Homo sapiens: one gene and its partner. The protein of the gene in region 1 purifies or fractionates together with the protein of each later gene. This does not show direct contact. Each region holds a gene or a part of one and is shown on either strand. Other genes may lie near its edges.

The links. The genes of interacting proteins can lie anywhere in the genome.
Region 2: the proteins of CDKL1 (region 1) and EDIL3 purify together in Homo sapiens (affinity purification with mass spectrometry; one large-scale study listed by BioGRID and IntAct). This does not show direct contact.

Annotation. Positions count from the first base shown.
Region 1 is NC_000014.9:50,386,882-50,390,381, forward strand, and holds part of CDKL1 (cyclin-dependent kinase-like 1), read right to left. Parts: intron 1-3,500.
Region 2 is NC_000005.10:84,063,381-84,066,880, forward strand, and holds part of EDIL3 (EGF-like repeat and discoidin I-like domain-containing protein 3 isoform 1 precursor), read right to left. Parts: intron 3,227-3,500; coding exon 3,071-3,226; intron 1,465-3,070; coding exon 1,320-1,464; intron 1-1,319. UniProt on the Homo sapiens protein: Promotes adhesion of endothelial cells through interaction with the alpha-v/beta-3 integrin receptor. Inhibits formation of vascular-like structures. May be involved in regulation of vascular morphogenesis of remodeling in embryonic development.

The DNA of each region.
Region 1 (3,500 bases):
CCAGGTGTGGTGGCATGCACCTATAATCCCAGCTGCTCAAGAGACTGAGGCAGGAGAATCACTTGAATCTGGGAGGTGGAGGTTGCAGTAAGCCAAGATCGCGCCACTGTATTCCAGCCTGGAAGACAGAGCGAGACTCCGTCTCAAAAAGAAAAAAAAAAAAAGAATACAAAGAATTAGCCTAGTGTGGTGATGCATGCCTGTAGTCCCAGCTATTCAGGAGGCTGAGGTGGGAGGATCACCTGAGCCCTGGAGATTGAGGCTGCGGTGAGCCATCATTGCCCCACTGCACTCCAGCCTGGGCAACAGACTGAGACCCTGTCTTAAAAAAAAAAAAAAAATGGGGGTGGGGGTGGTGGGCCTGATGCGGTGACTCATGCCTGTAATCCCAGCACTTTGGGAGGCCGAGGCAGGTGGATCACCTGAAGTCAGGAGTTCACAACCAGCCTGTCCAACATGGTGAAACCCCGTCTCTACTAAAAATACAAGAAATTAGTTAGGCATGGTAGTGGGCACCTGTAATCCCAGCTACTCAGGAGGCTGAGGCAGGAGAATCGCTTGAGCCTGGGAGGCAGAGGTTGCAGTGAGCCCAGATCATATCATTACACTCCAGCCTGGGTGACAAGACCAAGACTCCATCTCAAAAAAAAAAAAGACTGAAAACCCAGCACCTTAGGCTTGCAGTCTGTGGCACTGAGCAGTAGCTGTCCACTTTAGATCAGACATGAGGACCCCAGTTTGCCCCAGTCTCCACCTCTCCATCTTGCCCTATATTCAGACTGCTTCCCTCATTTATGTTAACAGTGTGATTCCACAGACATTTGGGTTTGTTAATCCATAATCCATAACAGAAAATGCTGAACTCAGCTAAAACAATTAATAGACATATGTTATTAATTCACCTCAACAAGCCAATTAAACAATTTGAAGAGAGGGAGCCTAGAATGACCCCTATTAGCAAAAGCAGGATGAAATTCTTAAAGATGTCACAGGATTTTCCACTGAGGTGTTTGTTTGTTTGTTTTGTTTTTTTGAGACAGAGTCTTGCCCTGTCGCCCAGGCTGGAGCACAATGGCTCTATCTCGACTCACCGCCACCTCCACCTCCCGGGTTCAAGCGATTCTCCTGCCTCAGCCTCCCAAGTAGCTGTGGTTACAGGTGCCCGCCACCACACCTGGCTAATTTTTTGTATCTTTAGTAGAGACGGGGATGTTGGCCAGGCTGGTCTCAAACTCCTGACCTCGTGATCCACCTGCCTCAGCCTTCCAAAGTGCTGGGATCACAGGCATGAGCCACTGCAGCTGGCTGAGGTTTTTACTGAGTGAGGAAACACTCCTTCAACTAATATTTGAAGAGCAGAAGCCCTTCCAACTATGAAAGTTCTAATTAGATTCTAATGCTAGGGAGCATTTACATGGTACTCTTAGCATTTAGTGGATGTGGCACTGCACAGAGCACATTCAGTTAAGCACTTAATAAATGCTTTGGATAACAGGCAACCTTGACAGTCCTACTTCTTAAAGCATGTGCCTGTCACCATGATGGTAATGTGCCCAGCAGGACTTCTGGTCTGCTCTTTGAAGACAGTGAGCCTCTTGGGGGACTGTGTGAAGAGCTTTTGCCTCCAGCGCCTCCGTTGGCCGTTGGCCACAGCACTATGTTAAAATCCCACCTTCTGCCCTTCTGTCTGTGCTTTCCTCTTCTATGTTTACTCCCTTTGACCCTCTACTTTCCTGCTCTTGCATCCTTGAGGCTGCTTGACCGCTGTTAGATGTTTGGCCCAAGAGCCCTCTGCCCTCCTCAGCAAAAAATCAGCAAAGCAATGCCAAACAGGGACATAAATCATAGCGATAAGGCACGCCAGGCTCCAGGAAGCACCAGAGCTTGCCCAAGGTCACTCCACAGCTTCAAGCATGATCAGAAACTGAAGTTCCATAGCTGGGTGTGGTGGCTCATGCCTGTAATCCCTGTACTTAGGGAGGCCGAGGGAGGCGGATCATGAGATCAGGAGTTTGAGACCAGCCCGGACAACACAGTGAAACCCTGTCTCTACTGAAAATACAAAAATTAGCTGGGTGTGGTGGCACGCCCCTGTAGTCCTATCTACTGGGGGAGGCTAAGGCAGGATAATCGCTTGAACCCAGGAGGCAGAGGTTGCAGTGAGCCGAGATTGCGCTATTGCACTCCAGCCTGGGCAGCAGAGTGAGACTGTCTTCAAAAAAAAAAAAAAAAAAAAAAAAAAGAGAGAGAAAAGAAAACTGAAGTCTCTAACTGTAGCTCCTGTCCCCATGCCCCTGTCCCTTCTATAAGGCTACTGATCAAAGGGGACAGCAGGGAAAAAAGGGATGCTCTGGACATTCTGCAGGTTACTATTCACGATGAATTAAAATCAAATGAGAGCCTACTTCTGGCACCTAGGATACACTCAACAGTGCCACTCGCCCACACCCCATGCACCTTTTTTCATTTCTCTCCCTCAAAGAGTCATTTTACACATTTTTTCTAATCACTTACCAATGAAATTTTAATATCACAAATATACTATATATCTGTATATGAACCATATGTATATCTGTGCTTTAAACAATAAAAAAGTTAGATTTTTTTGCCACCTGCCAAGAACCAATTTTCACCCTTTAGGAGTGACCTTGTTCTCATTATGAATCTCTGCATTACGTTGTGATATTTATAATTAATTTTCAAATGGACATTTCCCCTCACACTTATTCTCATCTTTGTAGGTGGCAAACCTACAAAGGTTTGTACAAAGGTTTAGAAGGCTATTTTAGCCTTCTAAAATAGTCCATAGGGTTATGGAATGAGATATGGAAAGAACGGCTGTTCAGCTACAATCTGCACTCAGGCCTCCACAGAAGCCACAAATCTCACAGCTAAGGCCCTGCGGGAGAACGGGCAGTATAAATTCTGACGACCAGTCATTGGGAGACTTCAGAGTATGGTGTTTGGTATAAAGTGATGGATGGTTCTGGTATGGGGAAACCACATGGCATGAACTTGGGGACAGACAGAACTGTGTCTGCATTCCAGCTTACTGACCGGGAGGCCTTGGCAAATCATTAACCATACTGAATCCATTTGTAAAATGGGATAACAATATCTACCTTCTAAGGTTGTTATTAGTGTAACGATATCTACCTTCTAAGGTTGTTATTAGTGTAATTTGTGCATCCTAAGTAACAATGATACTTGGCAGTTTGTCCAAATTTACTAGGTCCCTTGCCCCTACCTGCCACATAGCAGTAGATGATTCCTTCTCTTTGTCTCACTTGTTTTTCTTGTTTTCTGGAGGGAGACATGTCATAGACAATGTCCCAGCTGCTGCTTTCAGCCCTTGACCAATGCTGGTCTAATATATTTTAACGCCCCCATACCACCTGCCATAGGTAGAACGTCTGCCCAGGGATCCCACAGTGACACTGTCCTGTCCTTGACCTCCAACTCCGCTAGGAGCATCTACTTTTTCTGCCACTGCTGGCAGA
Region 2 (3,500 bases), on another chromosome or scaffold:
AGTAAACAAACTGGATTAAATTGCCAAAATAAGGAAAATATCTCTGTTAGGAAAATTAATGGTACTAAAGCAAATGTTGGTTGCTTCAAAAAATACACCAACATAGAATATGAAAATGTGATTCTTAAAATAGGCTCACTTGACTGTACAAATTACTTTAATTCTTAAAATGTATTGGGCTTATTAAAAATTGGCTATTTAATAGTAAATTTTATTTGCTTGAAAATCAATCCTTTTTTAGGCAACACAAATAAATTTAGGAAGAGAAACAGATATAAAGTATGCGCTTTAACCTATAGGCAACCTCTTGAAATGAATAAAAAGCTCACAGTTGTCTCTTTGCAGGGACTTGTTCTCCTATTTTTAATTAAGTGGTATTGTTTTAGATTTGGTAAAGGTTTTTCCTCACTTCAGGGTTACACTAAAAAGCGGAGCACACACGCACTTTTAGTTTTCTTCACAGTTATTTGAACAAAATAATTTCAGGCCACTGCAGCAAAGATAGTTTGTAAATTGTGATGCCAGAAATGTAAGAACAACTACCAAAAATATAACAAGTGAAATGCCTAGATACAATTTTCTATTTCATTCAGAATCTAGCTATATTGAAATGGGGCCACTGTAAGATTCACACATTAAGTCCTCATCTTTATAGCTAATATTGATGTTCCTGGGGGACAAGAATTATTTAACTCTGAGTCCTTTGATAGGTTATCCTTGAGTTGGATAACCACTATTTTTACAATAAACAGGTTGCTAGCTAAGAATGATCCAAGAATGAATTTATATTAGCAATCTTGGTATTGAAGTATTGAGGAATGAGAAATTAAATGTTTCATAAAACCTAAAAAAAAGTTCTTATGGTAGACAGACAAAGATAAAGTTCTTATGATAGATGGACAAAGATAAAGCTTACTTTTCTGTGTTACATAGCTTAACCTTTACTGCAATTTATGAGGTGGGACAGATTCCAGTTTTTACTAAACTTTTTGTCGGAAAACATAGATCACAGTTATTATGCAAAACAATGAGACACATTTAAAAGTGACAATTTTCCCGTGAGAATTCCCTGTGCTTTCTTTGACCACTCAACAAAACACATTACTCTTTCTACATTAATTCTACCCTGTAGCATGTTTTAGAACTTGTTTATTCTATACATAAACACACACTGGTTTTCCCTGAACCATGTTGTAGACATTTTTCCCCAGAAAAAAATTTCTATGGTTGTTGAATTTGTAGGTTAGTAACAGGCTACATACAAATATGCTTTTTGTTTTCTTTAAATAGAATACAGAAATAGTTAATTTGAGACTTACCCGACAGTTCACAGCCAAGAAGTTCCATTCGCAAAGTGCAATGTCTTCGACAAACTTGGGGATAGAGTCTTACATACTGAGCTTTTATGGGGGGTGTGAAAGAGTTAGCATATGGAGTGTTGTTATCAATGTTTCCACGAAACACCTGTGTAAAAACAGTTTAAAATTATTCACTGCAACAGCTTATTTACCTATTTTTACATATTTACCCTATCTATACCTTATCGAAAATAATTGTTCGAAGAACAGATTACATTATTTGGGAGCATGGAGCATTTGAGAAGTGCCTTGCCATGAGCACTGAATATAAAACCCAACCATAAACTCCTAATTAAAGCCATAAACCACTGTGGCTCATGACATGATCTATATTCCACTGTGATGGTCTTGTCAATTTTAAGGCCAGTCTTTCAGAACCAGGGCAGCGCTCTTCTCTTTTTTTGAGAAATGGACACCTTAAATCCTTCAATTTAATCTGGGACTGTCTGCTCATTTTCCTACTTAGTATTCATACTTTTGGGGGTAGAATCCAGTCTTTGCTACTGCTTCCGGATCATCCAGTCTCTCTAATGCTATGATTAGATTTATGATGCTTTAAGGTTTGACTCATGAAGATTATGTCTTCATCAACCAGTCCCATGTACTTGGATAATAGAATTCCTTATTAAAATTTCCAGCTAAAAACTATGTTTGCCTCTAAAATTCAAGTACTATAATGTGTCATTGTAAATTCATTAAGGCTTATTCTTATTTTACCTTTTATGTAAACCTGATAATCCAAAAACCTTATTTAAATTCATTTAAGGGGGTAATTTTAAAAATATTTTATATAATTTATTAGAGTCTGGTATAATGCCTGATTAAATGGAATGATCTCCAGTCCTGATATTTTTAAAATTAAAATTTTCGATGAAGAACTAACAAAAGAATTGAGAATATCATAAGAAAAGAAAAGGAAGTATTGAATATAATATTCAATACCTCTAAAATATTTTATTTTGCTAAGTAACAAATCTTTCTTCCAATATGAAGCATATAAAGATATATATCTCTTCTATCACTTAGTGCTTTTTTGCTTTTAAGAAAATAGTTTTCATTAATATAATAGTTATCTCATTAAGGAGTGCGTTAATCAGCCGGGCGCGGTGGCTCACGCCTGTAATCCCAGCACTTTGGGAGGCTGAGACCGGTGGATAAGGAGGTCAGGAGATCGAGATCATCCTGGCTAACACGGTGAAACCCCATCTCTACTAAAAATACAAAAAATTAGCCGGGCGTGGTGGTGGGCACCTGTAGTCCCAGCTACTCAGAAGGCTGAGGCAGGAGAATGGGGTGAACCTGGGAGGCAGAGTTTATAGTGAGCCGAGATCGCGCCACTGCACTCCAGCCTGGGCAACAGAGTGAGACTTTGTCTCAAAAAAAAAAAAAAAAAAAGTGCGTTAATCACGAAAGCAATAAAAATGTATCATTAAAATAAAGCTTAATTGTCATACAAAAGACTGTGTCCACCTGTGTCAAAGTATTTGTAGCACCACCAATTAAAATCTGTGAAAATCTTAAATGTCAGCCATTTTAAGTTTATAAACTGGAGAATTACTACTTCCTTCATCACACTAGCCCAATTAAAAACAAGACGCATTGGTAATTTATTTTCATCAACATAAGTCTTCTCCTGAAGACCTTGTCATTTGATAATCAATAATTATCAATGACATTTTTCTTTTAAATTAAGTAGGTTAAATTATTCTTACCATGTCTTCATTGGTGCCTTTCACTTTGTACATTGCCCAAGTCTTTCCATCATTACTGTAGGCAATTTTGTAGGATTTTATATACTCTGGGCTTCCAATCCTCTTGGCTCCTTGGGTAATCACACCAGTAACTCTCATTTTCCTTTGCAAATTTATCTGAAAAGACGAGCACAACCAACAATAATCTTATTGTTTTCAGGATAACAATACTGAAAATACGAATTTTAGAAATGAAACATTGTTAATGCAGATTAATAATAACATAAAAAGCTAATAATTTTCATGGATAAATGTTTACAATAGGCATATATTAAATTTAGCTTCAAAATCCCTTTCTGTAATGGAATACTATTTTTAAGTAAACAAATATTTGTGAACAGGCTTTGAAAAGGGCAATGTGCCCCAAAAACATAAGTATAGAAAGCATCTG